Regions from separate parts of the Homo sapiens genome. Here regions 1, 2, 3 and 5 are each reported to be linked to region 4. The links are microRNA targets in miRTarBase. Many come from high-throughput screens and were not tested one by one. Region 4 holds a microRNA gene; each other region holds the end of a gene's coding sequence.
The links. The annotated mature microRNA hsa-miR-5699-5p reads UGCCCCAACAAGGAAGGACAAG and lies in region 4 at 2,164-2,185, shown strand. An mRNA with a match to its seed (bases 2 to 7 or 8) in the 3' UTR can be bound and repressed. Matches are read on the target gene's strand: a 7mer-m8 pairs with bases 2 to 8, a 7mer-A1 pairs with bases 2 to 7 and ends in A, and an 8mer does both.

Region 1 (4,000 bases), not on the chromosome of region 4:
GGAGAGAGTACCCTTACTTCCAGATGTGCACTCTGACTTCCCTGCTAGAGTTAATTCATCCTGCCTTCTCCAGTGCTCCAATGGGGAAGCCAAGCTGTCTAGGCCTCCAGCACTGCACTGTCACAGCTTCTTTCCCACCACCAACTTGATAGGAAAGTCTTATCCACCCACAACACTGGAGACTTCTGGGGGAGATAAATATGTGTTTTTTTCTGTGTGCTTGGCACACACAGTAGGAGCTTCATAAATGCTTGTGTGATTTAGCAGGGACGCAGAGCTAATCATCTCATTCTCACCCACAGGCCCTGGCTCTGAAAGAAATATCAGAGACAAAAGCCCTTTCCCCTTAGCTTGTTGGCTGAAGCCCAGGGCAGGCAGCATAGGCATCTCAGGCTAGGCAGAGCTACCAGCCTTGCCTAAATGGGGGCAATGTGTTCATCTCAGAAGGCTGGCTTCATAGAGGAAGGGGACCTGCAAGGCTGGAGAGGCCTTCCTGGAAAAGGTGGCAGTGCCAGCTGTTACAGTCTTCTAGGAAATAGTGTTTGCCCTGCCAGCAAGGCAGGGCGTGCAGCAGATAGGTGGGTCCAAGGGAGGGCCTCTACCTTCCGAGGGCAGTAATGCAGATATGCCAAGATATACAGGGTCTGAAGCGCAGCACCCACTGTGTTGACGACGATGAGGATCCCGTCTCCCTTCAAAGCCCCATAACTCAGCCAGCCCAGGTTGCTGCAGGGTGGAGGGGATGGACATGGCTCAAAGGGTTCAGTGTGAGAGGAGGACCCAAAGGGTCTTTCACTCTTTTTTTTTTTTTGAGACGTAGTCTCGCTCTGTCGCCCAGGCTGGAGTGCGGTGGCACGATCTCGGCTCACTGCAAGCTCCGCCTCCTGGGTTCACGCCATTCTCCTGCCTCAGCCTCCCGAGTAGCTGGGACTACAGGCGCCCGGCACCACGCCCGGCTAATTTTTTGTATTTTTAGTAGAGACGGGGTTTCACCGTGTTAGCCAGGATGGTCTGGATCTCCTGACCTCGTGATCCGCCCGTCTCGGCCTCCCAAAGTGCAGGGATTACAGGCGTGAGCCACCGCGCCCGGCCAAACCTCTTTCACTCTTGCTCCTCCTGCCCCGCCCCCACCTCCCTCTGGTAGCCTTTCCCACTACCGCAGCCGTCGGCCCCTCACTTGACTTCCGTGGTGAGAAAGGGCAGGAACTGGACGTTGTCCACACTCCGGGTCATTCGCATGTGCCTGAGGTCCGAGCTGTAATGGGGCCCCGAAGGGAGGGGTGGGGGTGGGAAGGGAGAAGCAGAGTGCTAGAGGGGGATGCCCAATGCCTGTCATCCTTTCCGGACCACCGCAGACCCCGCCCCCTCTCCCCCCCGCCAGCTATCCTGCCTTCTCCTTCAGGCCTAGTGACCAGCCTCGCCCTTGTACCCCGGTCCCCTCGACCCGATCCCACTTTGATCCCGGTTCCGGACGAGCCAGGTGCTGTGGCCACGTCTCTGTCCCCTCTCTCTCCTTTCCTGACTGCCTAGTCCTCCCCAACCCAGCCCGGCCGCACTCTCACAGGCCGGCGGAGAACATGCCAAGGGTGAAGACCACGCATGCTCCGTAAATGAGCGAGTCCAGAAAGCCGCCCGCCTCCATTACGACTAGAGTCGGATCCCGCGCCCAGCGCCCGCCGCGAGCCTGCGGTTGCCGGGACCTACTGCAGCCCAGACCTGCGGCTCTGGAGCCCCGCCCCGCGCACTCGGCTCCGCCCCCGCACGCTCGGGCCGTCCCTCCGGAAACTGCGCCGAAGCCCCACCCTCCCTCCGACGCCGAACCGGAACTCGCGCCCCTCTCCTCCGAGCGCCTTCCCAGTACCCTGGTCCAGACCTCTTCCATGTCCCGGTCAGTCCCCTTCCTAGGGCTCCGCGGGTGTGTCCCCGATACCTGCCGCTGCTCACACTCTGCCTACCCCTTGGATCATCTAGACGCCCCCAGTCTCAACGCTCGTGTTCCCACAGGCCTGTGCGCCTTCGGCGGTGGACCTCCAAACAAAAGCTTGCTAGTTTAACAAGACTTCAGCACGCTTTCCATCCAGAGCTCCACATCAGAACCTCAGTTGCCCAGGGTTTGGGAAGTTTTTTTCTGGAGTGTGCTGCCGAAGCTTTTTCTCAAAATAACACATTACCAGGAATCACCAAGCCTTCCTCTTTTGCCCTCCCTCTCGGGTCAACTTTACATGACGTGGCCAATCCACTGACGCCTCTATCACTGACCCCCGGTCCAACCCACTTGTTACTGGGAACTTTCCCTCCCAGCCTCCCACACGTCTCTGCTAGTGTGGCTGTGGGGCGGGGCCGCATGCCTCAGCTGGCGTTCCCAGCTTCCCTGACTCACCGAAACAGCGTGAGTACCTGAATGGTAGTATGCCAAAGCCCTGCGGTGACGGAGTGGGAGTGGGGTAGAGGTCGGATAGGAAGAACTTCCAGAGTGGAGTGCAGCTCAGAACCCGAGAGACAGCTGTCAGGAGCACTCCGGTCCTGGACAGCCCTCAGAGGAGGAAACATCCCACCCTTTTGGCCTCGTGAGGGGCACACATTCTTTGGAGAGAAAGAAATTCAAACCCAGTTGCTACTGTTGTAGCACAGAGAGCCTCGCACTTAGCAGGGACTCAATGGTCATATGTTTTAATATGGAGTGGCAGAAAAGCATGTCCGAAAAAACACATTGCTTTATTTTGAGACAAAGAACATTGTATAAAAAAACTCCAGTTGTAGAAATCAGGACAGACACACAGCAACTTATATACAGATACTATACACGTGGGCCCTGCCCTTTAGGCTACACTCTAGGCAGAATGTACACATGGGCACTGCCCTTACAGCTACACTCTAAGAACAGGTTGGCACAGCCCCCCTGCTGGCACAGCTCTGGGGAGTGCTGCCCCAGGATGGGAGAGAATGCAGTACCTGGCTACAAACTTCTCTGTGGCAGCTCCACAGATGAGGTCTTGCTGGGAGATGCTGGGTCAGCCCAAGCATGCTGCCTCTCCTGTACCTGGCTTCCAAGCAAGAAACTGTTTCTTGCTTTTCCTTCAGTCAGTTCATCTGGGCATCCTGGCTCTCTCCTGGAGGGGGCATCTTTGACAAGCTTTGCCCATCCACGTGGCCCCTTCCAGCTCAGCTCCCACTGTGCCTTAAGGGACCATGCCTGCACAGCTTGTTTCTTTGGCTTAAAGGCAGGAATGGTGGGAAAGGACTGTCTCCACTTCTTTCTCCATCCCTCCGAGGTGAAGGTGGGGATGGCACTGTCGGGCTGGTTGGCCTCCTTCCGGTTGAAAACCTTAATACTGACCCGTTTTGAGGCTGCTAGGTGATAGCTTATGCCTGTGGTGGGAGTGGTTCCCAGGGCTGGGGGCTCTGAAAGTGGCCCCAAGACAGGTTTGGAGTGCCTGTCCCTCTCTTCAGCCTGTCCCTCTTTAAGGCCAGGTGTGGCATACACCTTCACGGGGTTTGCAGCAGCAGAAGTGGAAGGAGCAGCACAGTCCAGGCAAGTGGGAAGAGGCGTGGGGCAGCACTGTGACCGATGCTATGTAGAACCCGCACCTCTGGGTCATCTGCAAGGTGAGAGGGCAAAGGCCACCAGTGTGAGTGGCTCCACTATTTGTACTGGCTCTCAGCCCAACAGGATTCCCTCAGCCTCAGCCTGGTAAAGGAGCCACCTCCTGTACCCAACCTCTTCAAGCAGACCCCTTCCTGTGCCCCAGGCCCAGTTTGCTCCAGCTACCCACCTGCTGCAAGTCTCTTCTCCTGTGGATTGTCATGGGCCTGAGGACTGTGAGCTGAAAGACAAGAGTGGTAGTAGATCAGGTACTGTATCAAAGAGGCAGAGGGCTGTAAGTATGAGTGGGCTGGGCTGCAAGACTTCTATACCATCCTAGATCACTAGACCGCACCCAGCATAGAGATGGAGGAAGGAGGCCCACAGGGCTCTGACACTCACTGATTTTGCCACTGA
Region 2 (6,177 bases), not on the chromosome of region 4:
ACAAAACCCTTCACTGGGATCTGTTGACTGCAGCCAGAACCAGGGCTGGATCACACAATGGAGGCAGGTACCAGGGCCGCAGGAAGGGAAGTAGCTGGGGCAGGGAAAGGCCCACACTGGGATACCGGTTTAGCACCAGGTAAATCACTCTTGGTATTTATATACAAAATCAGTTGGCTCTATTTCTTAGACATACACACAGAAAGCAAGATTTGATCATTACTTTATGAATCTGTCACTTTGCAATACCGGTATTATCAAGAAATAGGGACAACTCACTCAGATTCAAATTTCAGTAGCAGGAAATAAATATCGAAACACCATCATTGGCCCTCAGTACAAAACCTCTACATCACCCAATATTGCCCTCCCTACCCAACCCCAAAGGACCACTCCCTGGTGGCTGCGACTTCACTGCTGCCATCTCCAATACATACCACAGGTGTCATGCAGCCCTCCTTAAGGCTGGCACCGTAGGCTTAAACAATTGGCTGAGAAGCAGGAGAGAAACACGCCAAAGGTTCTGTGCTGCAAACACGACCCCTCTTTTTTTTACACCACAAACTTCTTTAAGGATCTGGTCACTCAATTGGAGGGATAAATAGCTTTTTAGAAAAAGAGAAGAAAGTCTTTAAAAAGGAGAAAGTGTAAATCTGATTACTCCAAACCAGTCATCTTTTTTTTTTTTTTTTTTTTTTTTGAGATAGAGTCTCGCTCTGTCACCCCGGCTGGAGTGCAGTGGCACAATCTCAACTCACTGCAACCTCCGCCTCCCGGGTTCAGGCGATTCCCCTGCCTCAGCCTCCTGAGTAGTTGGGACTACAGGCACGTACCACCACGCCCGGGTAACTTTTGCATTTTTCAGTAGAGACAGGGTTTTGCCATGTTGGCCAGGCTGGTTTTGAACTCCTGACCTCAGGTGATCCGCCCGCCTCTGTCTCCCAAAGTGCTGGGATTACAGGCGTGAGCCACCATGCCCGGCCCAGTCATCTTCTTAAAGTCATCTTCTTAAGAGCAGTTCACAGATTCTCAAAGTCTGTTAAACAGAGGTGAGCATGGACCTGGAGGCAGCCTGGGTGGGGCAGGTGTCCTCCAGGCATGTGCCTGGGCAGGGCTGCAGGAGCTGGTGGAGTGGGCAGGATACTGTGCTCAGAGGTCAGGCTGGCCATCTGTCCTCCACAGAAAAAGCTGCCAAGCTAGGGTGTTTTGGTCTAAAAATTCTTGGTGGAGACAGGGAATCCCTGAAGGGAACACTTTTTTTTTTTTTTAAGTTATAGTAGAAATGGGGAAGGAGGACAAGAGCTTTTTTGGGGGGGTGGGGTAGGGAGGGGGCTGGAGTGCAGTGGTGCCATCTAGGCTCACCGCAACCTCCATATCCTGGGCTCAAGCAATTATCCTGCCTCAGCCTCCGGAGTAGCCAGGATTACAGGCGTGCACCACCACGCCAGGCTAATTTTTGTAATTTTAGTAGAGACAGGGTTTCACCATGTTGGCCAGGCTGGTCTCGAACTCCTGACTTCAACTGATCTGCCCGCCTCAGCCTCCCAAAGTGCTGGGATTACAGGCGTGAGCCACTGTGCCAGGCCCCAAGAGCTTTTACATAAAAATTTAAAAAACAATTTTTAAGGGAGAAAGAGAAAAATAGTCTCTCAAATGGTTCTGAGGAAACGGAAAGGAGGATGATGGAGACAGTGTTTATTGCTGGCCTGCCCTGAGTAACTCAGCTGGCCTCCATCTGGAGTTTCTTCCTACTTCAGGCCTCTTCAGGCTCCAACTCTGAGCTGCAGTCGGAGCCCCCATCAAAGGCAGAGGTGGTGCTGCCCTTGGCATTGGTGTAGAGGATGCTGTCTGAGGAGGGATAGTTGGCCTGTGGCTGGGCACTTGACCTCCCCTTCGGTGCACGGACTTCCTCCTTCAGAAGAGCATTCTGCCGCTGAGGTCATCAATATCTCAGTGGCGTGTGGTTTTTCCCTTCGCATATGCTGGATATACTCTATGGCCTTCTCTCCTTGGAGTGTTGGGACTGCGTCCCACAAACTGGAGGCTGCCTTTGATGTGGTCCCTACGATTTCATTCCAGTGCATTATGATGGGCCCATTCGTCAGCCGCAGATTGAAATCTCTGTTGTTGCTTGTCACTCTCCACCCCGACGTCATCATTATCACTCACTTCCTACAACCCAGGGAGCAGCCACTGCAGCAGCAGTAGTCGGGGAGGCGGAGGGATAGAGGAATCTGAGGAAGTCACTGACAAGAAGCAGAGTTCCCCTGCCTACACACACACACTCACTTGCTCTCACTCACATAAAACACAGGCAAGAACCACCTCCTCACTCCTAAAATCCCAGTTCAAAATTTAGCTATATGTCTTGTCTGTTAAGAAGGCTTCATACTTCAGAAGTTTATAAAATGCTTTGATTTCACGCCTAGGCTCTTTGCTAATCATTTCTAGGTTCATACCTGTGCTCCAGATGACAGAGATAACCATATGCCTGACCAGTGGAGCACTATGCACTGTAACTACATTTTGGATCCATTTATTTATTCTTTCACATCCAGGACTTTTATTTATTAACAGAATGTTTTCCAGCTAATGTTTATATCTGGTGGGCGGTAAATTAATTACAAAATATAACACTGACAAAGCCTTTATATTTTTCTTTTTTTAAACCTGACAGCATAACTTCCTCTAAGATAAAGATGTTTTAAAGATGCTTGAAGGCCAGATGCAGTGGCTCATGCCTGTAATCCCAGCACTTTGGGAGGCTGAGGCAGGCAGATCCCTTGAGGCCAGGAGTTTGAGACCAGCCTGGCCAACATGGTGAAACCCCGTCTCTACTAAAAATACATTAGCTGGGCATGGTAGCACACGCCTGTAATCTAGCTACTCGGGAGGCGCAGGCAGGAAAGTCACTTGAGTCCGGGAGGTGGAGGTTGCAGTGAGCCACGATCATGCCACTGCACTCCAGCCTGGGTGACAGAGTAAGACCCTATCACCAAAAAAAAAAAAAAAAAAAAAACCACAAAACCCAAAAACCAACGCTTGGAAGCCATAGAAGTTTTATTGTAAGCATTTAAAAACAACAACAACAACACTAGGCTGGGCGCGGAGACTCACGCCTGTAATCCCAGCACTTTGGGAGGCCAAGGTGAGCGAATCACAAGGTCAGGAGATTGAGACCATCCTGGCCAACATGGTGAAACCCCGTGTCTACTAAAAATACAAAAATTAGCTGGGTGTGGTGGCGCACACCTGGAGTCCCAGCTACTCGGGAGGCTGAGGCAGAAGAATCGCTTGAACCTGGAAGGCAGAGGTTGTGCTGAATCGAGATCATGCCACTGTACTCCAGCCTGGTGACAGAGCAAGACTCTTTCTCAAAAACAAAACAAAAAACAAAACAAAACAAAAAAACACTATGACACTATAGAATAATTATCAATTTTATTCTATAGTGTTATAGCGTTTATTCTGTTACTAAATGAAAGCAAAGACTTCCTCTCAGCAGTCTCTCCTATGTATTAGGCTGAAGTAATTGCTGTCTGGAAAAGGAAATTTGCAGTTTCGGATGATGTAGTTACTTGAACATGAAAACAACTGGGTAAGAAATAGAGTGGTGATCATGTAAATGTTTTGTCCTAGTGATAGCCATCATATTAATTATATGAGAAATATTGGCAGATGATTAATTTGAGAAATTTCACAATCATTTCTAAGGAACAAACACAAATTACTGTAGAGTCAGCTCTCCATATCCCCACGTTCAAAATCTGCAGATTCAACCAACCACAGATCACAAATATTTGGGGGGGAAAAAACCAGTGTAACAGCAAAAAATAATACAAATTTAAAAACGTAGTATTAACCACTATTTATATAGAATTCATATTATATTAGGTATTGTAAGTAATCTAGAAATGATTTAAAGTATACAAGAAGATGTATCTATATTATATGCAAACACAATGCCATTTTATATAAGGAACATGCATGCCAAAACATAGGTTTTGGTATCCGTGGGAGCCCTAGAACCAGTAATCACCAGATACCAAGGGACAATTGTATTGTCAACTTACGTGCAGAAAAGAAAAAAACAAAAAAAAGGAAAACCTAAATAATTTTAGGAAAAAGCTTGACTTTTTCAGACATTTTCACAGTATTGAGTACACTATTCTATAAGAGCATGGCTATATTTTAGTAACCCTGAATATTGTTAATAGTGTAATGTAGCTACAAAGGGTGAAAAAATTAGAATTTTCAGACTATGCCTTTAATCTGGCATTCAGAATAATATCTCTATGGGAAAATCACCACTGTTGAAGGTTTATTTGTTAGATTCCTGATAATGCTGATCAAAAGATAAAAGATCAAAAGATTAACCATACATTTGTTTTGTTTTTTTAAAAAGTATTTATTTTTTACTAGTGAGGATGGAACTAGGGGAAGAAGTTTACAGAAAAGATGTCCATATACAAAGAAAGAAATAGCAAAATATTTTTGGTCATAATTTAGAAAGAAACTAATCTATAAAATGGAGACAATTCTCCCCAATTCATCTCTCTCATAGAAGAGCATAAGCACGGGCTCTCAGTTCCTTGATATCCTCAAGAGGCCACGGATACGTCTGACAAGAGCCTGTATGAAACTATATCGAGATCGAACTTTTGAATATAATCCTTCAATGTCCAGAAGTTTCTTTTGTAGTGATTCTCCAAAAGCGTTGATTGCATCAGCCTGAAGCTAGCGGTGACACAAAAGACATTTTGTTAAAATTGTTGTCTCAAATATTTCTTTTATTCTAAGTCTTCCAATTTAAAACACTTTAGAATTTTTGTAATGTGGTTCTTTCAATGTAAATACTTTTGAATTTTTGTAATGTGTTACTAAATTAACTAAACATTCACATTTTCTACCTTAGAATTTTTTGGTTTAATTCTCATGTTTTTCCTGCTTTCTTTTCTTGTATAAATTTAAAAACCTGCTTTAAATAGCAATGAATGTTGATGCTGATGCTGATATACTAACATACACACAAAAACATTTCCTGAAGGGCCATACAAGAAGTCAGTAAGACTGGCGGGGGAGGGAGGGAAGGAGAATGCAGGGAAGGAAGGGAGGGAGGGAGGACAGGAGGGTAGGTGGGAAAGAAGCTTTTACTTTTTACTTCATTTTGCAATTTTTAAAAACCCACTTGCATGCTTTTGTTTTCAAAAAATATTAATGTGGGGATACACCTGTTATATGCTTTAGAATTCATATATATTCTAGAATGCATATGTAGTTTCAGATGGATCTTTTTGATGTTATACTAAAAGACTAAAATTAAGTACAATATTAGATCAATCTACCTGTTTTCAGTTTTGCATTAAAATCACAACACAGAGTGTGAGATTATTTATTAATCCTGCATTTTTTTCTAGCTTTTTCACAAAGCAGTCTAAATGAAATAGTAACAGTTATTACTTCAAAATATATTTATTTTTGTTGTCCTAGCTACTCAGGATGCTGAGGCGGGAGAATCACTTGAGCCCAGGGGGTTGAGGCTGCAGTGAACTGTGGTCACACCACTGCATGCCAGCCTGGGTAATGGAGTGAGACCTTGTCTCTCAGACAAAACAAACAAACAAACAAACTTCTGAATAATCTTCTTTGGCTAATTTTGCACATGGCCTCAATTAACACTAGTTCTCCTAAACAAGCCTAGCCACAAAACGAATTCCTTTTATAAAGTCACTAAGGGGCGAATGTAGTCTGGATTGGGATGGGAGCGTGGTATTCATGATATCCAGCAAGCTGTGCTTTGGAGGCTGCTGTAACTGCACCTTTCATTCCCAACCTTGTTTTAAGAAAAATAGCAAAAAGAGGGATTTGGGAGGAGCAGAGGCTTTATCAAATCATGGCTAAGGACATTCAGATGGCTAGCAGAGGATCTAGCTGTAATTCATTTTCCCTAACATCACACACCCTGATACCTGCTTTGTTAGAAACATAACTTTGCTATTAGTTTAATATGAGGTTTTCATTGTAATTGTTTTTGGCATACTCTTCATTCATTCTAACACTACTGATCAACAGGTTAGTAAGAGCACAGTGTTGTGTACTATGGTCTATGACGGCGGGATTTGTATTGGCTGCTCTCAATCTCACCATTAAATTATTTCCTGAAAAATAAGTGCTGAG
Region 3 (6,177 bases), not on the chromosome of region 4:
GCCTGTAATCCCAGTTACTCGGGAGGCTGAGGAAGGAGAATCGCTTGAACCCAGGAGGTGGAGGTTGCAGTAAGCCGAGGTCATGCCACTGCACTCCAGCCTGCACGACAGGAGCGAGACTCCATCCCAAAAAAAAAAAAAGTTATTTAGATTAAATAAAAAGAGAAACTTAGCTGGGCATGATGGCTCTACACCTGTAAATCCCAACACTTTGGGAGGCCAAGGTGGGAGGATTGCTTGAGGCCGGGAGTTTGAGACCAGCCTGGGGAACATAGCTAGACCCCATCTCTACAAAAATTTAGCTAGGCATGGTGGTGTGCACCTATAGTCACAGCTACCAGGGAGGCTGAGGAGGGAGGATCACTTGAGCCCAGGAGTTTGAGGCTGCAGCGAGTGGTGATTGCACAACTGCACTCTGGCCTGGGTGACAGAGCAAGATCCTGTCTTTTTCTAAAAAAGTGAAAAATAAGAGAAACATAAAACACTAAGGCTAAGAGCTTAGAACCAGAGGTGTTGACAGGGGTAGACTGAGAGTTAATGGAGTGGTTGACGGGCCACTGGATACCACACGAAGCTGGGGCCCAGTGCCCATTTGTCAGAGGAGAACACTGAGGTGTAAGGAAGCTAATCCCCTCTGCCCAGGGGCCTCACAGTCTGGGAGGGGTGATGGGGACTTGGAATCTGAGACTGTCCTAGCACCAAAGGTCAAAGTTTAGAGGGTGGGGGGTGCCGAGCGCCCACTCACCCGTGTCCTTCCCTTGCAGCCCCTGCCCACACCCCCACACCTGCAGGCGGAGCCAGAGAACCACCAGTACCAGGTATGGAGCTGGGAGCTGGGAGGGGTGGTGGGGATCCCACGGATCCAGGAGCCCCGAAGCCGGGGTGGGGAGGGGTCAAGACAACTGAAACTGGGGGCTTTCCTCCCCTCGTCCCCCCAAGCCTCACGGTCTCTGCTCTCGAAGAAGCCCAAACCGCCTCCCTGAGAGACCCTGGCAAGTCCCTTTTCCTCCCAAGGCTGCAATTTCCTTCTTTGCAAAAGGGATCCAAAACCTTGAACTTGCACAGGAGGAACAAGGCCCAGAGAGGGACAGGGGATTGCCTGGGGCCACACAGCCAGTCAGGTCCCCAGTGAAACCCCACCGCAGAGCTCAGTCCCTCTCCATCCCCTCCTGTCAGCTGTCTGTCCCTGTAGTTCTGTCTCTCTCTCTCAGTGGCCTACATATGTCTGTATGTCTGTCTTCCCCTTTCTTGGACTCTCTCTCTCTCTCTCTCTCTCTCTCTCAGTTTCTCTTGCTGTGTCCTTTTTAATCTGTCTTTCTGTTTCCAGTTTGTTCATGCTGCCTTGTCTAAGATGCATCTCTTTACATGTCTTCGTTTCTCTGCATCTCTGTCTCTCTCTCTCTCCATTCTCTGTCTCTCCTGCCTCTTTGTCTCTGTCACTGTGTCCACCTCATTTCTTGGCTCTTCCAGGACCTCTTGTCTCTGCATCTCACTCTCTTTCCACCTTGCTCTTCCATTCTCTCTGCGGGTTTCTCTCCATCTCACGCTGTCTCTCATCCTCTGTCCCTCTCTGTCTCCCCAAGACTCTCCCCCTCCACCCAGTCATAATTCTGTTCTCTCTTCCCCCCAAGCAGGACCTGCTAAACCCCGACCCTGCCCCCTACTGCCAGCTGGTGCCAACTTCCTGATGGGTCCTGGGCCAGGCCAGCCAGGGAGAAGACAAGGCCCCAGCCCTCCTCTGGGAGCCTCACACCTGAGACCAGCAGGACAAGGCCATTGGGGGCTGTGGGGCCGATGAGGTGGACTCAGCCAAAGACTCAGCAGCACATGGGGCAGGTGTCCTGGCAGGGGGACAGGAGACTGTAACAGGCCCAGGTCCTTGTGCAGCCCGTGAATGCACGCCCGCCTTCGGTCTGTTCCTTCAAGCAAGCTGGCCTGGGCCATGTGCCTGTGAAAGGCAGGCTCTGGCCCCTTTCCATGCCAAAGTCCCCCAAGATCTGGATATCTGGGGACAAGATGGTGGCCTCAGGCCTGCCTCCCAGGCAGTTGGCTGGGCTCCCAACTGTCTGTCCTCAATGCCCTACCCCAACTCCACTAGTGACCCTCAGAGTCTTCTCCCCTTAGGACAAGGCAGACACCCCACCATGCGGGCCTCAGGTGGCAGAGAGGCCCAGCCTCACAGGCCTGTGGCCCCACACACCAGTCCCAGCAAGGTGACCACGGCTGCTGGACCCCTTCCCTGTTCAGGCAGGCCCAGCCCCTCTCAGAACCTGCTGCCAGCTGCTGGTCTTGGCCCCCACCCTGAATCTTACTGAGTCCCTCTGGGCAGCAGCTCCCTTCTCCACCCCACCCCAGCACCCGTCCCAAATGTGGCCTCAGCTTGTCCTCCCCTTCCCCAAACTATGCATTCATTCAGCAATAAATGAGCCTTTGCTGTATGCCAGACCCAGTTCTAGGCTCTTGCAGCCCTGGTAGAAAGCAAAACAAAAACTCCCGCTTTCCCAGAGGGTCACTTGGCAGGGGAAAGAATCAGGAAATAAAATAAATAATGAACATGCGTTGTCTGTCAGATGGGGATAAGTGTATTGGGGAAATGGAGGGGGGTCGAGAGTATTGGGGGACTGAGATTTTTAATTAGGGCACAGAGGTCCTCGCTGAGAAGGTGACAAATGAGCAAAGACTTGTAGGAGGGGAAGAAAGGAGCCATGTGGGGCTCTGGAGGAAGAGCATTCCAGACAGAGGGAATAGCCAGTGCAAAGGCCCTGGGGCAGAAGCATGCCTGGCATATTCAAGGAGCAGCAAGGGGGCTGGGCATGGTGGCTCACACCTATAATCCCAGCACTTTGGGAAGCCAAGGCAAGCAGATCATTTGAGGTCAGGGGTTCAAGACCAGCCTGGCCAACATGGTGAAACCCCTTCTCTATTAAAAATACAAAAATTAGCCGGGCATGGTGGTGGGCACCTGTAATCCCAGCAACTGGGGAGGCTGAGGCAGGAAAATCACTTGAACCCGGGAGGCGGAGTTTGCAGTGGGCCAAGATCGTGCCCCTGCACTCCAGCCTGGGTGACAGAGCAAGACTCCACCTCAAAAAAAAAAAAAAAAAAGGAGCAGCAAGGAGGCCAGTGTGGTGGAGAGGGTGGGGAAGGAGGAAAAGGTGGGTGGAAGTTGACGTCAGGAGATGGACGGAGGGGCACATGGCGCAGGGCCAGGTAAGGCACTGCCGAGACTGTGGCTTTGAGGGGCAGGGTGCTGTGAAAGGCGAATAACGGCCCCCCAGTGACGTCTACATCCTAATCCCCTGTGAATGTTACGTTATATGACAAAAGAATGCAGCCATGATTAAGTTCAGGATCGTGCTTTGGGGAGATTATCCTGGATTGCCCTGGCAGGCTCTTTATGTAATCACACAGATCCTTATAATCGAGAAGGACACAGGAAGCGTGAGTCAGAGGGGCTGTGACAACAAAGGAAGCAAAGCCCTTTGAAGACGGGAGAAGGAGCTGAAAGTCAAGCAGCACTTCAGAGTCAGAATGATTGAGTGTGAGAGAGTCCATGGGCCATCGTGAGTGTTGAAGACGGAAGGGGGCCTTGAGCTAAGGAATGCAAGAAACTTCTAGAAGCTGGAGGAGGGCCAAGCTCAGTGGCTCACGCCTGCAGTCCCAGCACTTTGGGAGGCCAAGGTGGGAGGATCGCTTGAGGCCAGGAGTTGGAGACCAGCCTGGGCAACATAGCAAGACCCCGTCTCTACAAAAAAAAAAAAAAAAAAAAACAGAACCGAGGGTGGTGGCTCATGCCTGGAATCCCAGCACTTTGGGAGGCCGAGACAGGGGGATCACCTGAGGTCAGGAGTTCAAGAATCAGCCTGGCCAAGATGGGGAAACCCCGTCTCTACCAAACATAGAAAAATTAGCCAGGCGTGGTGGCGGGTGCCTGTAATGCCAGCTACTGGAGAGGCAGAGGCAGGAGAATCGCTTGAACCCAGGAGGCGGAGGTTGCAGTGAGCCAAGGTTGCACCATTGCACTCCAGCCTGGGTGACAGAGCGAGACTCTGTCTTAAAAAAAAAAAAAAAATCAGAATTGAGGAAAGGCAAGAAAATGGATTTTCTTCCTACAACCTCCAGAAAGCAACACAGTCCCGCTGAAACCTTGGCTTTAGTGCAGTGAGACCCATTTTGGATTCTTGACCTCCAGAACTATAAGATAACAAACTTGTGTTGTTTTAAGCCACTAAATTTGTGGCAATTTTTTACAGGAAATGGGAAACTAATCTAGAGGATGAGGAAGAAATCACAGAAGGAGAAGTTGCGTCTCATGCTGACTCAGTATGCAAATACTCTCTGGGAGACTTCTCCATCCTCAGACCGCTCCAGACACCAAATGCCTGGGCCTTTGACCGCCTTGCTAAGAGGGTCAACCAAGCCAGCCAGGTAGCCAGGGCTCAGGGCTAGGAGTGTGAGGGGATTCCATCTTTTCTCTCTCTTTTTTTTTTTTTCTTTTTTGAGACTTTTCTTTTTTGAGTCTTGCTCTGTCGCCGAGGCTGGAGTGCAGTGGTGCGATCTCAGCTCACTACAACCTACGCCTCCCAGGCTCAAGCAATTCTCCTGCCTCAGCCTACCAAGTAGCTGAACTACAGGTGCACACCACCTCACCCGGCTACTTTTTTTTTTTTTTTTGTATTTTCAGTAGAGACAAGTTTCACCATGCTGGCCAGGCTGGTCTCAAACTCCTGGCTCTGCAGACAGGAGGACTGAAATCCATGGTGGCAGACGCCTATAATCCCAGAACTTTGGGAGACCAAGGCAGACGGATTACTTGAGGTAGGAGTTCAAGGCCAGCCTGGCCAACATGCTGAAATACAGTCTCTACTAAAAATACAAAAATTAGCCGGGAGTGGTGGTAGGTTGAGACAGGAGAATCGCTTGAATCCGGGAGGCAGAGGTTGCATTCAGCCGAGGTCATGCCACTGCACTCCAGCCTGGGCAACAGAGCAACACTCTAGAACAAAACATTGACAGAATTTGTTTCTGGTTTGGATACAGGGGATTGGAGAGAAGAGTGTGCCAATAATTGGTTTGTTCATCAATTCAATGAAGATTTATTGAGCATCTGTTGTGGACAGCCCTATTCTAGGTTCTGGGGAGACAGCCATGAATGAGACAGTGATGGCTGCTTTTGGAGAGCTGACCTTCTAGTGGGAGACAGGCCACAGAAAAACAAAGCACATGGAACATAATGTCAGGGATGACGATGCTGTGAAGGAATGGAGCAGGTGCTAAGAACCTACTGGAACGGGCATGCTTAAGAGGTGCTGGAGAGGGTCAACTCTTGGGTGACTGCTTCGAGCAATGGGAGGGTGGGGAGCAGGGGTGTTGTACACACTGCGACAGGGCCAGGTTTGCAAAAGAAATCAAGACATGGCCACACAAACACTTCTGTGTGACTGTTCACAGCAGCATTATTCACAATAGCCAAAAGGTAGAAATAACCCAAATGCCCATGAACAGACGAATGAGTTCTTTTGTTTATTTGTTTTGTTTTGTTTTTGTTTTTGAGACAGTCTTACTCTGCTGCCCAGACTGGAGTGCAATGGCGCAATCTTGGCTCACTGCAACCTCCACCTCCTGGGTTCAAGCCATTCTCCTTCCTCAGCCTCCGGAGTAGCTGGGACTACAGGCGCCCACCACCACGCTTGGCTAAGTTTTTGTATTTTTAGTAGAGATGGGGTTTCACTGTATTAGCCAGGATGGTCTCGATCGCCTGACCTCGTGATCCGCCCAACTCGGCCTCCCAAAGTGCTGGGATTACAAGCGTGAGCCACCGCGCCCGGCACGGTATTTTTACTGTATCTTTTCTATGTTTAGGTACACGAATATTTATCATTGTGCTACAATTGCCTACAGTTTTCAATGTAGCCACAGGCTATGCAAGTTTGTCACCTAGGAGCAATAGCCTGTACCTATACCCTAGATGTGTAGCGGGCTCTACCATCTAGGTTTGTGTAAACACATTCTGTGATGTTCACACAACAATGAAATCGCCTAAAGACTCATTTCTCAGAACATATCCTCATCATGAAGTGACGCATGGCTGTATTATCCAGTGGAACATTATTCAGCCATGAAAAGAAATGAAGCCCTGACACATACTGCAGCAAGGATGACCCTGAAAACGCTGTG
Region 4 (6,177 bases):
TTTCTCACCTCTTCCATACACTTTTTCCTTAAATACACCCTCATACGTCTGTGAAGTTCTTCCCAATTCTGTAACTTCACTCCACCCTCAGGTGGAACATTTGTGAACAGTAACAAGTATTGATGTGTGCAACTCTGCAACCCAGCTGGAATTAATGCTTTTTATTTATCAATGGATGGTCATTGGATGGCCAGAGGGATTCCCTGTGCATTGTGGGGGCCCAGTGCCTGCTTGTGAGTGACATGGACATAACGAGGGTTAGGGAATCTCAGCCTCTGTGATTCGAGTAGTGACATCAAGGCAGGTGGATGACTCTTTGAGCTTGGCATGCTCCTGGGTGGCACAGCACAGGTGACGTGGACTGGGGCAAGGGCTTGTTCCACGGGCTTCTGTGTTGTTTTTTGTTTTTGTTTTTTTTTGAGATGGAGTCTCACTCTGTCACCCAGGCTGGAGTGCAGTGGTGCGATCTCAGTTCACTGCAGGCTCCGCCTCCCGGGTTCGTGCCATTCTCCTGCCTCAGCCTCCCCAGTAGCTGGGACTATAGGTACCCGCCACCACGCCTGGCTAATTTTTTTGTATTTTTAGTAGAGACGGGGTTTTACCGTGTTAGCCAGGATGGTCTCGATCTCTGACATCATGATCCACCCGCCTTGGCCTCCCAAAGTGCTGGGATTACAGGCCTGAGCCACCGTGCCCGGCCTGTTTTTTTTTTTTTGAGACGGAGTCTCACTCTGTTGCCCAGGCTGGAGTGCAGTGGCGCGATCTTGGGTCACTGCAACCTCCACTCACTGCAATCTCTGCCTCCCGGTTCAAGCCGTTGTCCTGCCTCAGCCCCCAAGTAGCTGGGATTACAGACATGTGCCACCATGCCTGGCTGATTTTTGTATTTTTAGTAGAGACGGGATTTTGCCATGTTGGTCTGGCTGGTCTTAAACTGTTGGCCTCAAGTGATCTGCCCACCTTGGCCTCCCAAAGTGCTGAGATTACAGGTGTGGGCCACCGTGCCCGGCCCTGTGTTTGATTCTTAAATCTTCTTTTTCTTTTTAATCTTTCTCTTTCTGGAGGACCACTCAGTGGATATGAGGAAGAGTTCACAGATGTCCATATTACATTCCTTTCTTAAATTAGCCTCCCTTGAACACTGCTGTAGGGTACAGACGCATGAAGGGCTGAAAGGGTGGTTGTGTCCCAGTAAGTGTGAGAGTGGAGCTGGTCTGTGAGACCCCGGTGCCGGTGAGGGCACCCGTGTGCGATGGCCTGGGACGGGGGTGTGCGGAGCCCTGACCGTGGCACACGCCCTTCAGCTTTGATGTTTCAGGCCCTTGCTCTGGTCATCAGTGAGCAGAAGGTCTAACAGCAGTGATATTTATCACTAGTTGTGTTGGCCAATGTGTTAGGAGGGTGAAGCTGTTTGACTTAAGCTGCTTGATTGGTTTGCATTTAAATAGACACCTGGTGGCCTGGTGCCTGGACACTTGCTCTGTGACCTGCCCCGTGTGGCTCCTCCCTCTGGCATGCATTAGATGAGATGGGCGTGTTTAGGGCGATGTGGCCCTAGACTGGAATGCATTCGAAGTGCAAACCCTGCCCCACCCCAGACCTGCCCCACCCCAGTGTGACGTTAGGAGGCGGAGGCCCAGCATCCTTCACCTGCCCTCCAGGTGGGTCTGAGGATGCTGAGGTTTCAGAGCACTGCTTTGCTAGCACACCAGCGAGTCCTGCTTAAAGAGGCCAGGATCTGAAAGGGCAGGTTACCAAATTGTGTAGCAGAAAAATAGAAATGTTTCCTTAGAAGGGGTGTAGGAAGGAAAATAATTTCCTTCATCATATCTGGAAAAGATTTCAAATTAGTAGGCACTATTTGGAATTATTAGTGGTCTCCTGTATTTCTTTCTTTCTTTCCTTTTTTTGATACAGGGTCTCGCCCTGTTGCCCAGGCTGGAGTGCAGTGGTGCAATCTTGGCTCCCTGCAACCTCTGCCTCCTGGGCTCAGGTGATCCTCCCACCTCAGCCCCCTGAGTAGCTGGGACTACAGGCGCGCTACCACACCTGGCTCATTTTTGTATTTTTTTTTGTAGAGATGGGGTCTTGCTATGTTGCCCAGGCTGGTCTCGAATTCCAGCATTTCTTCTGCCTCAGCCCCCCAAAATGCTTCTGTACCCCTGCCCCAACAAGGAAGGACAAGAGGTGTGAGCCACACACACGCCTGGCCTCCTGTCTTTCCTTGTTGGAGCAGGGATGTAGAAGCACTTGCCGCAGCCGACTTGAGTACATCTGACTTTACTTAGCTTTCCTCATGGGTAGCCTGGCAGTGCTGTGCACCAGTGCTGCTGGCCAGCTGTTTTTTCAATGTACTGGCAGAAAATCAAGCTGACACCCGGGTTCCTTTCTCCCTGGGTACTGACCAGGTGGGAGAGGAGGGGCGTTGTGTGAGTATCATCTTCATGAGGGCTGGTGGGGGAACATCAGCTTTAAGGTGCCTGGGATCTAAGGCATGGAACCCAGCAGTGCAGAGGAACGTAGGGGATGTAGCCTCGGGAGCAGAGATGTGCGGGCCGGTGCCCTCGTTCCTGGCGGGGTCTGAGTGCAGGAATAGGTTGGTGACCCAGCCGAGGTCACAAGACCTGCCTGGATGCATGGCTGGCGTCCGTGCTGGCCCCAAAACTGCCCATTTGGGGATTCCCCTCAGTCACAGACTCACCTAGGGGTCCGGAGAGCGTCCCCACTATGACCTCAAAGAACGAGGTGTTGCCTTGAGATCTTCCAAGGTGAGGGTAGGATTTTTTTTTTTTTGCAATTAGCAATAATTTGTTGTGAATGATCTTGGACCTATTTTCCACTTCTTTGTATAGGAAGAGAGACAGAATAAAAAGTCTCAATGTGCCAGATGCCATGTAATGAAGCCATGGGGTTAACGTTGTTGATTATTACGTAGCATCACGTTAATTGGAACATATTCACACGTGTCCACAGCGTGTGCGTGTGCCCAGTCCGATGAGCACGTTGGGTTAGGGTCGCTGCTGGTTCATGCAGCCCCTCTGGGTGGGGCTGTCTCTGTGGCTTGGCCAACACCCTTGCTGCTGCCACTGTTGGAGTCTCCAGCCTTGACCGGCCTTGCTGCCCCCAGGTTCTCGGAGCCTGCGCACCCTCTTCCCGGCGCCCACCCTCTTCCCGGCGCCCACCCTCTTCCCGGCGCCCACCCTCTTCCCCGCGCGCAGCCTCTTCCCCGCGCGCAGCCTCTTCCCCGCGCGCACCCTCATCCCCGCGCGCACCCTCTTCCCCGCGCGCACCCTCATCCCCGCGCGCAGCTTCTTCCCCGCGCGCACCCTCGTCCCGGCACGCACCCTCGTCCCCCGTCGCGTCTACCCGGGGTCTGTCGTGTGTTTCTACTCTGGCCATGCCCGCCTCTTGCTGTGAGCTAAGTTTATTGAGGTGCAGTAAGAAACCAACAGAGGGGAGCAGAGTCCGAGGCTGTCAGGGCGCAAGGGAGCCTTGGGCATCTCTTCCCCAGCTCTGGCGACCCACCCTTCGGGTTGAAGTGCAGGGGAGAGGTGAGTTCTAAAGGTAAGGCTGCGGTGATTTCCTGAGCCTTAATTATCTAACACTTGGCCATCTGCCGTGTGACCCCATCGAAGGGCACCTCTGGGGACAAAGCAAAGCCCTTGGTGGCCGTGGGCGGGGCGGCCGTGCCTGTCTGTGTGTCCTGCACCGGGAGCCCCGCCAGCCGTGGGGACGTTCAGGCACTTGCCACCTGTGGGAGGTGTGTGTTAGCCGCGTGGTAGGTGCGGATGCGTGGAGGGACAGGCACAGGCCCACAGGCGTGGCGGGTATGGGAGATTTAGCCGCGTGGAGATGCGTGGAGGGACATGCACAGGCCCACATGCGTGGCGGGTGTGGGAGATTTAGCCGCGTGGGGATGCGTGGAGGGACATGCACAGGCCCACAGGCGTGGCGGGTGTGGGAGAAAGCGCGCAGAGTGCCCAGCAGATGCCGCGTGGTCAGCGGAAGCCTTGGATACAGGCCGGGCGGGGGAGGGACATCTGGAAATACGCTTTAAGCAGCATCAATGGATAATGCTGTGATTTTCCTTCTTTTCGTGGTCCAAAACACGTTCTAGTGATGTCGCTGATTTGTGTGTACCTGGGACAAGGAACTAAATATATTAGGGCCTTGATGTAATCTGTAAAACAGGCACAATATGCCTATTTCAAAGAGGCAGTGGACATGAAAGACTGCTCTAAACTATTCAGTGCAATGAGAATGCTTCGTTGTCATTAGCAAAGTAAAATGCCTCCAAGGCGAGCTTGCCATGCGTTTAATGACCTTGGACGTGAGCTTCCTAAACCTGCCAGAAAGTGCTTCCAGCGTGGCTTCATGCAGTGGCTTCAGTGGAGAATGTGCATATGCGGCTGATACTGAGAGCCGGGCAGCACCCTGACAGCCTGACACATCCCCATGTGTGGACCGTGAGCCGGGCAGCACCCTCCCAACCTGACGCGTCCCCATGTGTGGACCGTGAGCCGGACAGCACTCTCCCGACCTGACACATCCCCATGTGTGGACCGTGAGCCGGGCAGCACCCTCCCGACCTGACACATCCCCACGTGTGGACCGTGAGCCGGGCAGCACCCTCCCGACCTGACGCGTCCCCACGTGTGGACCGTGAGCCGGGCAGCACCCCCCGACCTGACGCGTCCCCATGTGTGGACCGTGAGCCGGGCAGCACCCTGATGGCCTGACGCGTCCACATGTGTGGACCGGGAGCCGGGCAGCACCCTCCCGACCTGACGCGTCCCCATGTGTGGACTGTGAGCCGGGCAGCATCCTCCCGACCTGACGGGTCCCCTTGTGCCCATTGTGGGACCTCCATCATGCAGGCAGGTGACATGCATCAAACTGAATGCAAGGAGGAGGGTCCAGGATTGTGTGCGGGCTCCGTGTCTCGTCCTTCTGAGGCCTTCTGGGAAGCCAGGAGGGCAGTGGGGTCTTTTGTGTGTTTCCTCCTGGTGGCCGTGGGTTTGTAGAAATGGCTTTTTGCAAAAGGGCCCGGAGGCGGAATTAGAGCCTGTCCTGGAAAGGATGATGCCTTCGCGGGCACCTCTTTCCATTACTCCAGTGCTCCCGTGATTTTAAATATGTGCACCCTGCAGACTTCAGCCTTCTAGTGTCCTGGGTGAATAAATGCCAGGATTGCTCCAATGCTGGCAAACCTGAAACAGGAATTTCTCTGCATTAAGTTTGTCACCAAAATGGGAGGTAAGGGGAGAGGGGAAGGAACTTCTTGGCCTCGTCAGCCCTTTTCTTGAAACTCACAGTCAAACTTTGTCAAGTTCTAGGTGATAGTGCTTGAGGCGATGCACTTATTTATGTTATGTCTTGTTTTCTGAGTACGGTGCTTCGAGAATTTAAATATTTAGGTGAAATTGCCATGCACAGTTGAATTGGCACCATAATTTGACTCTCTGTAAAGCCTTTTGGTTTCCTGTTAGAGTGACCATTTTTTGAGTCAACTGAAGCAAACCCTGCTGTCAGCACGAAGGAGCCACTTTATAGTTAGGAGATCAAATTAAATAGAATTCTCCTAAATAGAGCGTGCTCTTTTCATAAATTTTAAAAATTCATTTATTCATCAAACACATACTGAGTACTTATCACCCTGGTTGCTAGTTACTGTTCATATATGTTTTTAAGGAATTACTTCCACCTAGCTCTGAAATAACATTGCATTTAGAATTTAGCCCAGAGGTGATTAAGCATGAGCTTTTCACAGCAGTCCTGTTTTCATTTTTACTTGAGAACATGTTCTCAGACTCGGTGCCCAGCTGACGTTACCTGTGCATTGCCCGAGGCACACACCTGGCCGGGGCTGTGTCTCGGGGGCTTCAGAAGAGGAAGGAAGGGCTGCCAGGCATCTGGCCCTTCCACGTTTCCCTGGTGGAGGGATTAGGCCTTGGGCAGGAGTCTTGGCTTGTCTTAATGGATGAGCTTGTGTCTCTCAGTCAGCTCTGCCTTGGTGTTAAGCTCTGGACTGACTCTGACCTCTGAGTGGCAGAGGAGAGGACGGTGATTTAGAATCAGTCATGCAGACCAGGGCACTCAGCGGGTCTTGGGTAAAAAGTGGTGGCAATCGATTGCTTGCCCTTTTGGGAGAACTGTGTGGATTGACTCCTCTGAAGA
Region 5 (6,177 bases), not on the chromosome of region 4:
TGGCATCTGGCCGTGTAGGGGACGTGGGAATAGTGTCCGGGCAGAGGGCGCAGCCTGCAACAAGGCGCGGAGGCAGGAACACCACAGCATGGGGAGTCCTCAGGGGACCTGGTTTTTCTTTCATAGAAGCTTCAGGGGCCAAGGCCGGAGACTGCACTCTCCCTCCTCCACCCGGCCCAGCTGCGTCCCTGCCAGTGGCTCCTCCCACTTCCTCCAGTTCTAGTTTCCAACAACAGAGGCTGCAGCCACCCAGCCCCGAAGCAGGGCCCAGCGAGACAGGGCCCAGGTAAGAGACCCCTCCCCCCGGCCTCTCTCGGTGGGGCAGGTGGAGGCCCTCGGAATAGGCTGCCTCGCCCCTAAGGGGTCAGAAGTCTCCCTGACCTAGGGGCTCGGGTAGAAGGGCTGTGTGTGGGTGACCGCCCCCCCGCCGTAGAAAGGGGTTCCACAGGCAGATGGATTTGAGAAATGTTGCTTATCTGTCTGAGGCCCATGAGCTCATCTGGGGCTCAGGGGAAAACCCACAGCGAGCTCCACGGGTCATGTGTCTCCCAGACTCAAGTCCCAGGCACCTAGACACTAGGGTGGCCGCTGGGCTTGGTGGCCAGGTAGACCCTCAGGACCAGGAGGACCCGGCCTCATAGGAAGAAACTGGAGGAGTGACTTTGCCATTCCCACACACAGTGGGGCCTTATTCTCTCTCTTGCAGCCCCAAGCGTGACCCAGCTGCAGAGAAGCTGAGACGGTGATTCGGACTGACTGGACTCTGGCCTCCAGGTGTCTGCACCTCACACTGGACCCACCTGGAGACTCCACGGGCTCCCGGCAGCTCCGGCTGCTTGGGTGGATCCGGGTGCCCGCAGGGGCTGTGGGAGGGCCCCGGGGCCTGCACTGCTCCCCCGATGGCCTGCTCTTCCTCACGGCCGGGGCTGCACCCTGTGTCCACGTGCTAGATCTGGAGGGACGCCCCATCTGCCTCCTGCCCTGCCGCACTCCGGGGAGCGGGGCCTTCGTTCCAGAGGACGTGGCTGTGACAGCGTCAGGGCTTGTGGTGGTCAGCGATCCCATCCATGGGGCTGTCCATGCACTCCAGCACACAGCCCGGGACCCCGGGGGCCACTGGGTGACAGTGGGCACCTTCCTGTCTCCCCGAGGGCTGGCTGTGGATGCCCTCAACCGCCTCCTGGTGACGGACTACTTGCCTGGGGCTGTGCACAGCTTCTCGTTGGGTCCTGCTTGGGAGCCCCTGGCCCCAGCCTCCATGCTGGGTCTGGAGGGCCCCTGCTGGGTGGGCCCAGGGCCTGATGGGGGCCTTGCTGTGAGTGAGGAGTTTGGGGATGTGAGGCTGTTTGGCAGTGCCCGCCAACCCCTGGGCTCCCTGGGGGGCTGGACGGGGCACACTTTCGGCTGCCCAGCGGGCATCTGCTCCAACTCAGAGGGCAATGTTATTGTGGCAGACGAGCAGAGGCGCCAGGTGACCCTGTTTCCCCGGGCTGGGCCACCCATCTGCCTGGTGTCAGAGGGGCTTGGGCAGCCCTTGGGAGTGGCCTGTGCACCCCAGGGCCAGCTCCTGGTGGCTGATGCCAAGGACAACTCCATCAAGGTGTACCAGGGCCTCAAGGAGCTGGCCTGACCTGAGGCTGGGTTGGAGCAGCCCTCCTGTGCCTGAGGCCAGCTCCCAGGCCCTTGGATCACCGCGGGAGGAACCCTCAGGATGGGTGGAGCCTCCAGGCTATGGGCATTGCCTGCCTGATGCCAGCACCACCTGGGCTGGGCCCTGGGCTTGGCTCGAGTTCTCCTGCTGGTGAGGCTCCGGATCTCAGGAGCAGCCCTGAGTCTGCTTCCCAGGCTGCCCCTGCCAGGCCTGCAGCCTCCCCAGCCAGGGCTGCTCTCTGCTGTCCCCATTCAGTGCCCTGGCCCCTGCATTCATGCCCCCCACACCCCCTCAGGCCCTGTGCCTGGACTTTGGGGCTGGCAGCTGAAGCCTTGAGATCCTGGGCCAGCTGCCGGCACACAGCTAGGCAGACTCTCCCACCAGGTGCCCCTGCCCAGGCCTCCTAATCGGGGGCAGACAGGCAGGGAGGGTGTGGCTGGGCTGGGCTGGGCGGGGCGGCCTGGGGCAGGGGTGTGGCCCCTAAATGTCCCCAACCTCAGAGGGACCTAGAGTCCTGAGCCTCCAGTAGCTTCTCTGGGCCTGGCAGAGGTAAGGGGGAGGCAACCCTGGAGTGTCTGGAGGCCCATGGCTGGCTGAACCCTGGATGCCTTTTCTTCCGCGTCCCCATGAATGAAAGCTGTCTGGGCCTTCATTCTGCAGACAGGGACAAACAGCTCCATGCTGTTTGTCCTCCCAGTGCAGCCGTGCTGGGAGGGTCTGGGGGAGCTTCCTACAAGGAGAGACTCCTGCTGCTTTGGAAAACTGAGAAAAAATAGGGGTCTAACCCTCTCCTCCCATTTTACAAGTGGGGAAATGAGGCGTGAAAGGAGAGGCGTCTGGGTTACTCCGTGGGTCTGGGGTCCAGGGAAGGGCCTGTATGGGGGAGGGAGCTGGGAGGGGACGGTGTCTGGCTCTACCCCTGTGGGGTGGGGAGGTGGGGCTCCCCTGTATCACAGGACATCCCCCCTGAGAGGTCCCTCATATGTCTGGGTCCTGTGGGTGGGGGACTAACTGCGCAATGTAGTTAGGTGCTCAATAAACGGAGTTGCCGCTGAGGTCTGGGCTGGGGTCTTGTTCCTGGGATCGGGAGGGGCTGGACGCCTGTGTGTTCTCTCCTGACGATCGCTGGCGGCAGCCTCTGGGCTGGTCCTACCAGGGCTCAAAATTCCCGGCACCACTGGCCTTGGGGATCTGGGGGCGGCCCCTCTGCAGACAACAGAGTGACGGGGGCGGGACCGGGCTGGGGCTGGGGCCTTCCTGGAATCCCGCAGGGCCTGGGGACCTGTTCACTTGGGGAGGCTGGGAGCCAGGCGGGGTCCGGGTTCCACGAAGGCCAGGTCCAGTCAGTTTCTCAGGTGAGGAAACCGAGCTGACGCGGGGCTGGCGGCCCGGAGGCAGGCTCGGGAGGTCCGGGCCTGGGGACTGGGCGGGCACGCTGCGCCGCGGAACGCTCGGGTCGGGCGGGCGGGCGGGCAGCCCGGGCGCCTTTGGGGGCCGGACCGTCGCGCGGCAACGCGCGGAGCCGGCGGAAGTGGGGCTCGGGTCCCGCGGCGGGGCTGGAGGCAGCGAGCGCCGTCGTCTGCCCGGGCCCGCCCATCGGGGTCCCCAACCCCATCCGGACCCCGCCGCCCGAGCGCGCGGCCCCGGAAGCACCCGGTGAGCAGGGGGGGTGGGCGGCGCGCGGCGGGACCTCGGGCAGCGCCCCTGCGGCTCCGGGCCTGGGCTGGGGGCTCCGCACTCCCGCCCGCGGCGCCGCTGCTTTCTCCTCCCAGAAGTGGGGCCGCCCCCGGGCCCGCGCCGACCTGGGCCCCTGTGGACCCTGTGCAAGGGCGGTCGGCGGCCCGGGCCTGGCTGTGGGCCCTTCGCAGTTGTCCCGGTTTGCAGGAAAGGGCAAAAAACGGAATCGTAGGCTCTTCCCAAATGAGAGGGGAAGGCCCTGCTTGAGGAAGGCAAGCAAGTTTGTTTGTTTGTTTGTTTTGAGACGGGGTCTCACCATGTTGCCCAGGCTGAACTCGTGTTTGTTTTTCATTATTTATTTATTTTGAGAGGGAGTCTCGCTCTGTCGCCCAGGCTGGAGTGCAATGGCGCGATCTCGGGTCACTGCAACCGCTGCCTCCCGGGTTCCAGCGATTCTCCTGCCTCAGCCTCCCCAGTAGCTGGGATTACAGGTGCCCACCACCACGCCCGGCTAATTTCTGTATTTTTAGTAGAGACTTGGTTTCACCCCCATCGAGGCTGGTCTTAAGCTCCTGACCTCAAGTGATCCGCCCGCCTCGGCCTCCCAAAGTGCTGGGATTACAGGCGTGAGCCACCGCGCCAGGTTGGTGTTTATTTTTCAAACAAGGCGCTGGGAAACGCAAATTCTCCAGAGCTCTTGTGGAGCGGTGGCAGGGAGGGGCGGCTCAGCCAGAGATGGCCCTGGCCCGTCCTAACTGGGCTGGGGTGCCCCCATTCCCTCATTCACGGGGAGGAGAGGGAAGTCTTAGTCTTACTACTTTATATGGTCGACCTCCCTACCTGCCTGGTCTGGGAATGGCTTCTCAAGAGCACTCGGGCTCATTCTTAGCAGAGGAAGCTCTTCTGGCTAGCCTGGCGCCCGTGTGTGTGTGTGTGTGTGTGTGTGTGTGTGTGTGTGTGTGTGTGTGTGTGTGTGTGTGTGTGTGTGTGTCTGGCTAGCCTGGTGCCCGTGTGTGTGTGTGTGTGTCTGGCTAGCCTGGCACCCGTGGCTAGCCTGGCGCCCGTGTGTGTGTGTGTGTGTGTCTGGCTAGCCTGTGTGTGTCTGGTTAGCCTGTGTGTGTGTGTGTGTGTCTGGCTAGCCTGTGTGTGTGTGTGTGGCTAGCCTGGCGCCCGTGTGTGTGTGTGTGTCTGGCTAGCCTGGCAACCATGGCTAGCCTGGTGCCCGTGTGTGTGTGTGTGTCTGGCTAGCCTGGGACCCGTGGCTAGCCTGGTGCCCGTGTGTGTGTGTCTGGCTAGCCTGTGTGTGTCTGGTTAGCCTGTGTGTGTGTGTGTGTGTTTGTGTCTGGCTAGCCTGTGTGTGTCTGGTTAGCCTGTGTGTGTGTGTGTGTGTGTGTGTGTGTGTGTCTGGCTAGCCTGGCGCCTGTGTGTGTGTGTGTCTGGCTAGCCTGGTGCCCGTGTGTGTGTGTGTGTGTGTGTGTGGCTAGCCTGGCGCCCGTGTGTGTGTGTGTGTGTGTGTGTTTCCTCAGTCTTTAAAGATGCTCACGTTGCTTTCTCCCGTCCCATACCTCCTCTGCTATCGATCGCTTCTCTTTCATCTTCCTCTGGCTGTGTGATCCCAGCAGCTGCTAGTGCAGGCTTCTTTGTGCCGCCGACCGTCCCAGAGGCTGAGGTGGGAGTGTGATGGGCGTTTGCCCCACAGTACGTTGAGTTTTCTCTCACTACTCGACAGAGAAGAGTAGCTTCTGCCCTCCCATCTCCTTCGGTAGACACAAGGCACTTTTTTTTTTTAAGGTAAACTTTGTAGATGAAGCACAAAGAATACACACAAAGAAAGCGCACAGATCGTGAGCACGTAGCTCGGTGAATTTACCCAAAGTGAGCCCACCGCAGAACCAGCTCCCCCTAGAACATCTGTTTACTGTTAGACCCATTGTGTTTCTTTTCCGACGATATCTGTGGGCAGTTTTCCTTAGTCCCTGTGAAAGCTCTTCCCCAGCAGGGCGTGATGGGTCCCTGGGCTGAGCTGGTGTGAAAGGTGGGCTGTACTGGGTGGTCCCCTATGGTGGTCACACAGCCAGACACGCTGGGCCCCTTGCAGGCAGAATCACTTTGTCCCTCTCACGATGTCCTTGGTGCCTCACGTCAGCTGGCCTCCAGGCATCCACCCGCCGCCTGCCCTCTCTGACCACTGAGGAAATGGGCATTTGAGGAGTTCTGCAGCCTGACCCAGAAGGTCCCTTTTCAGCTAGAACCCACCGCCTTGAGTGACTGGATCCTCCAGCCCCAGTGCGGGCTGCCTGCAGGGGAGGAGAGCAGCTGCACCAGGGGCCTCTTAAGCCCCAGGCATTTCCGTGTGAGGCCTCTTCCAGAGCCCCTCCAAGCTTCGGGAGAGGACTTACAGGTCACACCACCCCGACGTGTGCATCCTGCTCTGTTCCCTCGTCCCTAAGGATGTGGTGGGCTCTGAGACCTCCAGGCATCCTGGTCTGTTCCCTCATCCCTAAGGGCGTGGTGGGCTCTGAGACCTCCAGGCATCCCACTCTGTTCCCTCGTCCCTAAGGGCGTGGTGGGCACTGGGACCTCCAGGCGTCCCGCTCTGTTCCCTCGTCCCTAAGGATGTGGTGGGCACTGGGACCTCCAGGCGTCCCGCTCTGTTCCCTCGTCCCTAAGGATGTGGTGGGCACTGCGACCTCCAGGCGTCCCGCTCTGTTCCCTCGTCCCTAAGGGCGTGGTGGGCGCTGGGACCTCCAGACCCAGGCTCAGGCCAAGCTATGTCCCTCCCTCGAGTGTGGCTCCAGCGTGGGGGGTCTCTGCTCAGGGTGGCCGCTCCACTCTTCGTGCAGGCGAGA

Region 1: miRTarBase lists EFNA1 as a target of hsa-miR-5699-5p. Seed matches in the 3' UTR shown: 7mer-m8 at 3,412-3,418 and 7mer-A1 at 2,925-2,931.
Region 2: the mRNA of NUP205 is a reported target of hsa-miR-5699-5p. The part of its 3' UTR that is shown has no 7-base or 8-base seed match.
Region 3: the mRNA of CEACAM19 is a reported target of hsa-miR-5699-5p. Seed matches in the 3' UTR shown: 7mer-A1 at 1,829-1,835.
Region 5: miRTarBase lists NHLRC4 as a target of hsa-miR-5699-5p. Seed matches in the 3' UTR shown: 7mer-m8 at 1,963-1,969 and 7mer-A1 at 2,113-2,119.

The regions. Positions count from the first base shown.
Region 1 is chr1:155,133,554-155,137,553 of GRCh38, reverse strand. EFNA1 (ephrin A1) reads right to left here. Exons shown (of 5, transcript NM_004428.3): 3 at 3,986-4,000; 4 at 3,774-3,824; 5 at 2,655-3,599. The coding sequence ends at 3,487. SLC50A1 (solute carrier family 50 member 1) reads right to left here and starts at 1,702. Exons shown (of 6, transcript NM_018845.4): 1 at 1,563-1,702; 2 at 1,178-1,255; 3 at 603-726. The coding sequence starts at 1,642. RefSeq lists a silencer at 1,662-1,901 and an enhancer at 2,172-2,261.
Region 2 is chr7:135,646,964-135,653,140 of GRCh38, reverse strand. It overlaps NUP205 (nucleoporin 205), which reads right to left. Exons shown (of 43, transcript NM_015135.3): 43 at 4,388-4,737. The coding sequence ends at 4,585. It also overlaps the pseudogene LOC124901801 and the pseudogene LOC101027084. Among named protein-coding and RNA genes, the nearest start is that of STMP1, 12 kb to the left of the region's middle.
Region 3 is chr19:44,681,803-44,687,979 of GRCh38, forward strand. It overlaps CEACAM19 (CEA cell adhesion molecule 19), which reads left to right. Exons shown (of 8, transcript NM_001127893.3): 7 at 765-818; 8 at 1,635-2,553. The coding sequence ends at 1,688. It overlaps LOC107985306 (a long non-coding RNA gene), which reads left to right and starts at 3,236. Exons shown (of 3, transcript XR_007067268.1): 1 at 3,236-4,428; 2 at 5,041-6,177. RefSeq lists an enhancer at 3,295-3,589.
Region 4 is chr10:637,756-643,932 of GRCh38, reverse strand. It overlaps MIR5699 (microRNA 5699), which reads left to right and starts at 2,155; the gene lies at 2,155-2,244. All of the region lies in intron 1 of DIP2C (disco interacting protein 2 homolog C), which reads left to right. LOC124902361 reads left to right here. Exons shown (of 1, transcript XM_047426106.1): 1 at 1-6,177. RefSeq lists an enhancer at 3,305-4,211.
Region 5 is chr16:566,790-572,966 of GRCh38, forward strand. It overlaps NHLRC4 (NHL repeat containing 4), which reads left to right and starts at 216. Exons shown (of 2, transcript NM_001301159.2): 1 at 216-286; 2 at 682-2,706. The coding sequence starts at 1,259. The coding sequence ends at 1,630. It overlaps PIGQ (phosphatidylinositol glycan anchor biosynthesis class Q), which reads left to right and starts at 3,179. Exons shown (of 11, transcript NM_004204.5): 1 at 3,179-3,307. RefSeq lists enhancers at 1-542, 491-540, 4,126-5,020 and silencers at 3,046-3,205, 3,276-3,495.